Regions from separate parts of the Homo sapiens genome. Here region 2 is linked to region 1. The links come from fine-mapping of genetic effects on gene expression. A gene starts in region 1. The other region holds a variant in brackets. All regions are shown on one strand. Distances are between the middles of the regions. Region 1 holds the start of SUOX (sulfite oxidase). Region 2 has its middle 4.2 kb from the start of ERBB3.

Evidence for each region. PIP is the estimated chance that this variant, and not a neighbour inherited with it, causes the effect. A credible set is the group of variants that fine-mapping cannot tell apart.
Region 2: its variant is the best candidate, but not a certain one, in a credible set for the expression of SUOX in whole blood (INTERVAL, PIP 0.60).

The regions. Positions count from the first base shown.
Region 1 is chr12:55,995,342-55,999,341 of GRCh38, forward strand. It overlaps SUOX (sulfite oxidase), which reads left to right and starts at 1,935. Exons shown (of 5, transcript NM_001032386.2): 1 at 1,935-1,998; 2 at 2,274-2,382. It overlaps RAB5B (RAB5B, member RAS oncogene family), which reads left to right. Exons shown (of 6, transcript NM_002868.4): 6 at 1-1,342. RefSeq lists an enhancer at 1,709-2,209 and a silencer at 1,795-1,984.
Region 2 is chr12:56,073,753-56,078,268 of GRCh38, forward strand. No RefSeq gene overlaps it. Among named protein-coding and RNA genes, the nearest start is that of ERBB3, 4.2 kb to the right of the region's middle. RefSeq lists an enhancer at 4,196-4,245. The variant G/A (reference allele first, on the strand shown) is at 2,308.

The DNA of each region.
Region 1 (4,000 bases):
GCCTCCCAAAGTGCTGGGATTACGGGCGTGAGCCACTGCGCCCGGCCGTATGTGCATATTTCTAGGATCCATTTCTATATGTTTCTCAAAGGGGTCCATGACCCAAAGGTTGAAAAACATCACTGAGTTAGTTTTCTTGTAGCTTCCACCTCAACGGGAAAATTTCCTCTGGATCTGCTCTTGACTCCTAGTGTACTTCAAACCCTTCAGTCCACCACAGTCTAAAGGTCGAGGGAAGGGAAATGAAATAGGATTATGTGTGGTTGCAGTAGGCTTTAAATTCCAAAGAATCTGAAGGTGGATAGGAAAGAGGACTGGTGCCAGACAAATCTGACATTCTAGGCCTGTCTCTGTCAACTTAACCAGCTGTGGCCTTGATCAAGTTAGTTAGTGCCTTCCGCCTCGTTTCTTCATCTGTAAAGTAAAAGCTGAAGATTAAGGTCAATTATGTAAAGTATGTGTGTCACACAAAAGTAGATGACACTATTAGGAAGGAGGCTTTTAGATAGTCCCTAACTGACTTCTCTGTATCTTCCTTTGGCTGAGACTTTTTTTTTTTTAGGTTGAAGCTCGCTTTCTCTCTCTCTCCCTCTTTCTCCCTCTCTCTCTCTCTCTCACTCTCTCTCTCTCCATATATATATACATATATATATATATATATATTTTTTTTTTAACAACTGGTAGGATAGGTTGGGCATTAGCCTTCTTCAGTGATTTGATTGTATACAGATTGAAATCCTTTCCATTTCCAAACACTTAAGAGCCAAAGCCAACTTGCCAACTTTTCACTGTCGGTTCCCTTACCTTATATCTCTTGGTAATACCCCCCACCCCCGTTCCCTGATTCCTGGTAAAAGCTCTAGTTGGAGAGCCGAAAGGAAAGGAAATGATCTTTCAAAATTAAAGGTGAACACCTTCACTTAAACTGATTAAAATTGCAGCTCCACCGTCCGGCCTCTAGAGGGCAGTGTATGGATACATTTGTCCAGATTGGGGGACTAGGTTTGATAAATTTTGTCCTGCATCAAATGACAAAAGGGTAATAGGAAATGTATTATATTTATGCCCCTTACTTTGAGATAAGAGACTACAACCTTCATACTTCGGGGTGTTAAGCTGCCATTGCTCTTGTTAAGGGGCAGTTTGTTTTTTAAGAGATGGGGTCTTGCTCTGTTGTCCAGGCTGGAGTGCAGTGCCGCGATCTTGGCTCAGTGCAACCTCGAACTCCTGGGCTTAAGCGATCCTCCCGCCTCAGCCTCCCGAGTACTGGGACTACAGGCGTGTGCCACCAAGGGGCGATTATTATTTTTTTTTTCTACGCAAAATAAAAGACGGCTATTCAGTGTTGTTGTTTCATTTTTGTTTGGGGAGAAATTCGACTAGCCCAAGGAATCTCAAATTCTTGGAACCACTATTTTAGGCATTTCTGTTATCATTCCTGGAATACGAGAACTAAGCGATTGACTTTGCTTTCCCTAAAAGATAAACAGGGTAGTTGTAGTTGCAACAGAGTAGATAGAGGTAGGTCTACCCTGGGTTTAAAGTGGAGATCACAGCCGGGGAAAACCGGACTGGATCCCGAGGCCTCCTCCAGGGAGGGGCGGCAGGGGTGTCTCAAAATCTCCCACCTGTCAGCCCAACTTTTGGATTCCTTGTCACCTTCCACACTGCCCGAGCTCCGGACATACAGCCCTGGTGCACAAGGGTCCCATTCTTTGCACACCAGGGGTATAATGGACTCCGGACTGTTGGCGAGAGTGACAGCAAAAAGAGCCAGCCTCTTCTCCCAGGCTTCTTAGCAACCTGCCTGTCTCGGCTCCAGGAGGCGGGTTCCAGCCAATGGTTGAGCCACCCGCTTCCAGCCAATGGCTGAGGGATAAGCTGAGGGGAGTGAGAGGTCACTTACTGCAGCCGGACATAACGGCGCTGGCCCCGCCCCTTCTCGAGAACTCGCAGAGCTGGGCTGGTAAAATTGCAGTGCTGAAGACACTGGACCCGGTAAGGAGACTGGGGGTGGTAAAGAAGCTGGGGAGGAAGGGCTGCTGAGCTGGGCAGCGGAGGGGGCCTTGGTGTCCAGCTGTGCTCCGAACCTCAAGGGCAACAAAACTATCAGTACCTGCCTCCACTCCTTCTGTCTGGGTGCTCTTGAGATCGCGGGGTGTTGCCGCAAGACCCTTTTGTGCCTGGATGCCGGACGTATGTTCCTACCTAACGTGCCCATGGGGAGTGAGGGGTCATCACCTGCACCAACGGGTGGCATTTCTGTATTACAGCAAAAGGCTGTCCCTCCCAAACCTGGGATTCTGGGCTCACTGAGTTCACCTGCGAGTCAGCCCTACCTGCACTGCTCTGGTCTAGTACAAACAGGCTGCTGGCATTGAGGTAGGTGGCAGAGAGAGTAATGGTCCCATGGCCCAGGGGCAAGGTGAAGACTGCTCCTATTCCCATCTCTAGGTTTCCTTTCCTCCCTACCCACGACCCACCCACCCCAGCACATTGGTCTCCAGCATCTCATCAGCAGTTTAGACATTTGTCACCCCTCCTCACTTTGGCCCTGCTGGGTCAGTGCTCTCTGTTCAGCAATTTGAGGAAGAAACTTGCAGGGCAGAGAGCAGAAAAATTACCTTCCTTCTCCAGCCTGCCCCTGACACTCTGGCCATTAACTCCTCAATTTGCTGAGCTCACTACAGTGGCACAGAGAAGATTGAGGTGGTCCGGGACCCTAGGTTGGGGTCCAGTTCCCAGCTGGGTTCAATTTTTTTTAGGGTGAATGGAGGGAGAGTTGGGGACTGAAAAGCCTTCAAAGACAATGTTATTACAGCAGTCTCCCCTTATCCAAAGTTTCCTTTTCCTGAGTTTCAGTTAGCTATGGTCAACCGCTTGGAAAATAGTTGAACACAGTACAATAAGATATTTTGAGGCTGGGAGTGGTGGCTCATGCCTGTAATAATCCCAGGACTTTGTGAGACCAAGTTTGAAGGATCACTTGAACCCAGGAGTTTGAGACCAGCCTGGGCAACATAGTAAGACCTCATCTCTACAAAAAAAAAAAAAAAAAGACCATGCATGGTGGCACACGCCTGTGGTCCCCGCTACTCAGGAGGTTGAGGCAGGAGGATGGCTTGAGCCCAGAAGTTTGATGCTATAGTGAGCTGAGATCACGCCACTGCACTCCAGCCTGGGCAGAGCAAGACCCTGTCAGGGGCAGGGGGAGGGGAGGGGAAGCCGGACAGTGGCTCATGCCTGTAATCCCAGCACTTTGGGGGCTAAGGCAGCAAGAGGCCAGGAGTTCAAGACCAGCCCTGACAACATAGACTCCCATGTCTACAGAAAAATTAGCCAGGCTTGGTGACACACACTTGTAGTCCCAGCTGCTGGGGAGGCTAAGGCAGGAGGATGGCTTGAGCCCAAGAGGTTGAAGCTTCAGTGAGCCATGATCGACACTTGCTCCATCGCCCAGGCTTTTTTTTTTTTTGAGACAAGGTCTTGCCCTGTTGCCCAGGCTGGAGTACGGTGGCGCCATCATAATTCATTGCAGTCTCGACCTCCTGGACTCAAGCCATCCTCTCATCTCAGCACTCCTCTCCCCACCACCCCGGTAGCTGAGACTACAGACAGGCACCACCATGCCCAGTTAATTTGTTTTTTTTTTTCTAGAGACACAGTCTCACTATGTTGCCCAAGCTGGTCTTGAACTCCTGGAGTCAAGTGATCCTCCTTCCTTGGCCTCCCAAAATTTTGGGATTATAGGCATGAGCCACCATGACTGGCCAAAAAAAAGTATATTTTGAGAGAGAGACCACATTCATATAACTTTTTTTTGTTTTTGTTTTGAGACAGGGTCTCGCTCTCTGTTGCCCAAGCTGAAGTGCAGTGGCACAGTCAGCTCACTCTGTAACCTCAAACTCCTGGGCTTAGATCTTCTCAGCCTCCAGAGTAGATGGGACCACAGGTGCGCTCCACCATGCCCAACTAACTTTTTATTTTGTAGGGACGGAGT
Region 2 (4,516 bases), 79 kb after region 1:
AATAGTAATAGTTAACTTTATTGAGTACCTTTGATGTGTCAGGCACGTGCCATAGGCTTTATATTTGTTTGTTTGTTTGTTTTTTGAGACAGAGTCTCACTCTGTCGCCCAAGCTGGAGTACAGTGATGCGATCTCAGCTCACTGCAACCTCCGCCTCCCAGGTTCAAGCTATTCTCCTGCCTCAGCCTCATGAGTAGCTGGGACTACAGGCATGCACCACAATGTCTGGTTAATGTTTTTGTATTTTTGGTAGAGACAGGGTTTCACCGCATTAGTCAGGCTGGTTGCAAACTCCTGACCTCGAATGATCTGCCCGCCTCGGCCTCCCAAAGTGCTGGGATTACAGGCGTGAGCCACCAGGCCTGGCCTTACCTAGGATTTCTTTATTATTTTTGTATGATGTAGAGATGGGGAGTCTGGCTATGTTGGCTAAGCTGGTCTTGAACTCCTGGCCTCTGCAATCCTCCCACCTCAGTTTGCCCAAATTGTTTGGATTTCAGGCATGAACCACCATGCCTGGCCTTACCTAGGATTTCTTACTGTTCTACTGAGACTAGTGATCTGCCCACCTTGGCCTCCCAAAGTGCTGGGATTACAGGCATGAGCCACTGCACCTGGCCCAGGATGATTTCTTTTACTTTTATTTTCACAGTAAAATAATAGCCAAAGTCATCAGCTAAGAGTAAGGAAAGATAAAGGGATGCTGGAAAACTGCAGAGATTGTTCATAAATAAAGCCTCCCTTCTTTCATTTATTCAGTCAGGACAGCACCCAACAGAGGTGGCCAGTTACTTGGCAGCTTTATCTACTGTGTATATCCGGGATGCTTAGCATGACGTGTCCCTAAGTGTTGAAGAATCCATCGCATCTTGGGATCTAGCTGAGAGGGAAGGGTTGGGGTTGGGAAAATAGCAATAGATACAGCTAGCGTTCATTGAATGCTTCTTAAAGGTTGAGCACAGTAATTCAGAGCTCCACCTGACTTTTCTCATTGAATCCAAACAACAGTCAGCCAGATGCAGTGGCTCACGCCTGTAATCCCAGCACTTTGGGAGGCTGAGGCGAGTGGATCACCTGAGGTCAGGGGTTCAAGACCAATCTGGCCAAAATGGTGAAACCCCATCTCTACTAAAAATACAAAAATTAGCCAGGCGTGGTGGCAGGCGCCAGTAATCCCAGCTACTCGGGAGGCTGAGGCAGGAGAATCACTTGAACCCAAGAGGTGGAGGTTGCAGTGAGCCAAGATCACCCCATTGCACTCCAGTCTGGGCAACAAGAGCGAAACTCCGTCTCAGAAAAAAAAAAATCCAATCAACAGTCTTTTTTTTTTTAAGGTTTTTTTTTTTTTAATTTATTTTTTTATTGATAATTCTTGGGTGTTTCTCACAGAGGGGGATTTGGCAGGGTCATGGGACAATAGTGGAGGGAAGGTCAGCAGATAAACAAGTGAACAAAGGTCTCTGGTTTTCCTAGGCAGAGGACCCTGCGGCCTTCCGCAGTGTTTGTGTCCCTGATTACTTGAGATTGGGGAGTGGTGATGACTCTTAATGAGCATGCTGCCTTCAAGCATCTGTTTAACAAAGCACATCTTGCACCGCCCTTAATCCATTTAACCCTGAGTGGACACAGCACATGTTTCAGAGAGCACAGGGTTGGGGGTAAGGTCACAGATCAACAGGATCCCAAGGCAGAAGAATTTTTCTTAGTGCAGAACAAAATGAAAAGTCTCCCATGTCTACTTCTTTCTACACAGACACGGCAACCATCCGATTTCTCAATCTTTTCCCCACCTTTCCCGCCTTTCTATTCCACAAAGCCGCCATTGTCATCCTGGCCCGTTCTCAATGAGCTGTTGGGTACACCTCCCAGACGGGGTGGTGGCCGGGCAGAGGTGCCCCTCACCTCCCAGACGGGGCGGCTGGCCGGGCGGGGGGCTGACCCCCCCACCTCCCTCCCGGACGGGGCGGCTGGCCGGGCGGGGGGCTGACCCCCCAACCTCCCTCCCCGACGGGGCGGCTGGCCGGGCGGGGGGCTGACCCCCCCACCTCCCTCCTGGACGGGGCGGCTGATCGGGCGAGGGGCTGACCCCCCCATCTCCCTCCCGGATGGGGTGGCTGCCGGGCGGAGACTCTCCTCACTTCCCAGATGGGGTGGCTGCCGGGCGGAGAGGCTCCTCACTTCTCAGACGGGGCAGCTGCCGGACGGAGGGGCTCCTCACTTCTCAGACGGGGTGGTTGCCAGGCAGAGGGTCTCCTCACTTCTCAGACGGGGCGGCCGAGCAGAGACGCTCTTCACCTCCCAGACGG[G/A]GTCGCTGCCGGGCAGAGGCGCTCCTCATATCCCAGATGGGGCGGCGGGGCAGAGGCGCTCCCCACATCTCAGACAATGGGCGGCCGGGCAGAGACGCTCCTCACTTCCTAGATGTGATGGCGGCCGGGAAGAGGCGCTCCTCACTTCCTAGATGGGATGGCGGCAGGGCGGAGACGCTCCTCACTTTCCAGACTGGGCAGCCAGGCAGAGGGGCTCCTCACATCCCAGACGATGGGCGGCCAGGCAGAGACACTCCTCACTTCCCAGACGGGGTGGCGGCCGGGCAGAGGCTGCAATCTCAGCACTTTGGGAGGCCAAGGCAGGCGGCTGGGAGGTGTAGGTTGTAGTGAGCCGAGATCACGCCACTGCACTCCAGCCTGGGCACCATTGAGCACTGAGTGAACGAGACTCCGTCTGCAATCCCGGCACCTCGGGAGGCCGAGGCTGGCGGATCACTCGCGGTTAGGGGCTGGAGACCGGCCCGGCCAACACAGCGAAACCCCGTCTCCACCAAAACCAGTCAGGCGTGGCGGCGCGTGCCTGCAATCGCAGGCACTCGGCAGGCTGAGGCAGGAGAATCAGGCAGGGAGGTTGCAGTGAGCCGAGATGGCAGCAGTACAGTCCAGCTTCGGCTCCGCATGAGAGGGAGACCGTGGAAAGAGAGGGAGACCGTGGGGAGAGGGAGAGGGGGAGGGGGAGGGGGAGGGGGAGGGACCAATCAACAGTCTTATAAGTAGATACAACAGTGTATAAACAAGGAAACCAAGGAAGATTTTTCTCCTTCAGAACTCGGACCCTGAATACCAGGTTGAGCTGGAGCTGAGTGAGTAATAAAATGAAAGGCCCTTTAATGTGGGGGAGGGTAGGTAGGAGTGGAGACCCTTAAGTAGTATCAGCACTGTTGTCTGATGGGAGTGTGAATCTGAACACATGAAGCTCCAGTCTCAGTAGAACAGTAAGAAATCCTAAGTAAGGCCAGGCATGGTTCACATCTGAAATCCTAACAATTTGGGTAAACTGAGGTGGAAGGATTGCAGAGGCCAGGAGTTCAAGACCAGCTTGGGCAACATAGCCAGACCCCCACCCCCACCCCCGCATCTCCATATCATACAAAAATAATAAAGAAATCCTAGGTAAGGCCAGATGGTAAGGCCAGGTGTGGTGGCTCATGCCTGTAATCCCAGCACTTTGGGAGGCCGAGGTGGGTGGATTGCCCAAGGTCAGGAGTTCAAGACCAGCTTGGTCAACACAGTGAAACCCCGTCTCTACTAAAAATACAAAAATTAGCTAGGTGTTGTGGCAGGCACCTGTAATCTCAACTACTCAGGAGGCTGAGGCAGGAGAATAGCTTGAACCCAAGAGGCAGAGGTTGCAGTGAGCCAAGATCGAGCCATTGCACTCCAGCCTGGGCACCAAAAGCGAAACTCAGGAGAATGCCTTGAACCCAGGAGGCAGAGGTTGCAGTGAGCTGAGATCACGCCATTGCACTCCAGCCTGGGTGACAGAGCGAGACTCCATCTCAAAAACAAACAAACAAATAAACAAAGTAGCCAGACATTTTGGTGCCCACCTGTAGACTCAGTTACTAGGGAGGCTGAAGTGGGAGAATCACCTGAGCCTGGGAAGTTGAGGCTGCTGTGAGCCATGATTGCACCACTGCACTCCAGCCTGGGTGACAGAGGGAGATCCTGTCTCAAAAAAAGGAAAAAAAGCCAGGTGTGGTGGCTCACACCTGTAATCCCAGCACTTTGGGAGGCTGAGGTGGGTGGATCACCTGAGGTCAGGAATTAGAGACTAGTCTGGCCATCACAGTGAAACCCCATCTCTACTAAAAATACAAAAAATTAGCCGGGCTTGGTGGCGCACGCCTTGTAGCCCCAGCTACTTGGAAGCCTGAGGCAGGAGAATCACTTGAACTCAGTAGTGAGCTGAGATCAGGCCACTGCACTCCAGCCTGGGTGACAGAAACAGAACAAGATTCCGTGTCAAAAAAAAAAAAGCAACAGACCAGAAGGCCATGAGGTCAAACAAAACAATGTTTTGTTTTTGTTTTGAGATGGCGTCTCACTCTGTCGCCCAAGCTGGAGTGCAGTGATGCAATCTCAGCTCACTGCAACCTCCACCTCCCGGGTTCAAGCGATTCTCCTGCCTCAGTCTCCTAAGTAGCTGGGATTACAGGTGCCCACCATCATGCCCAGCTAATTTTTG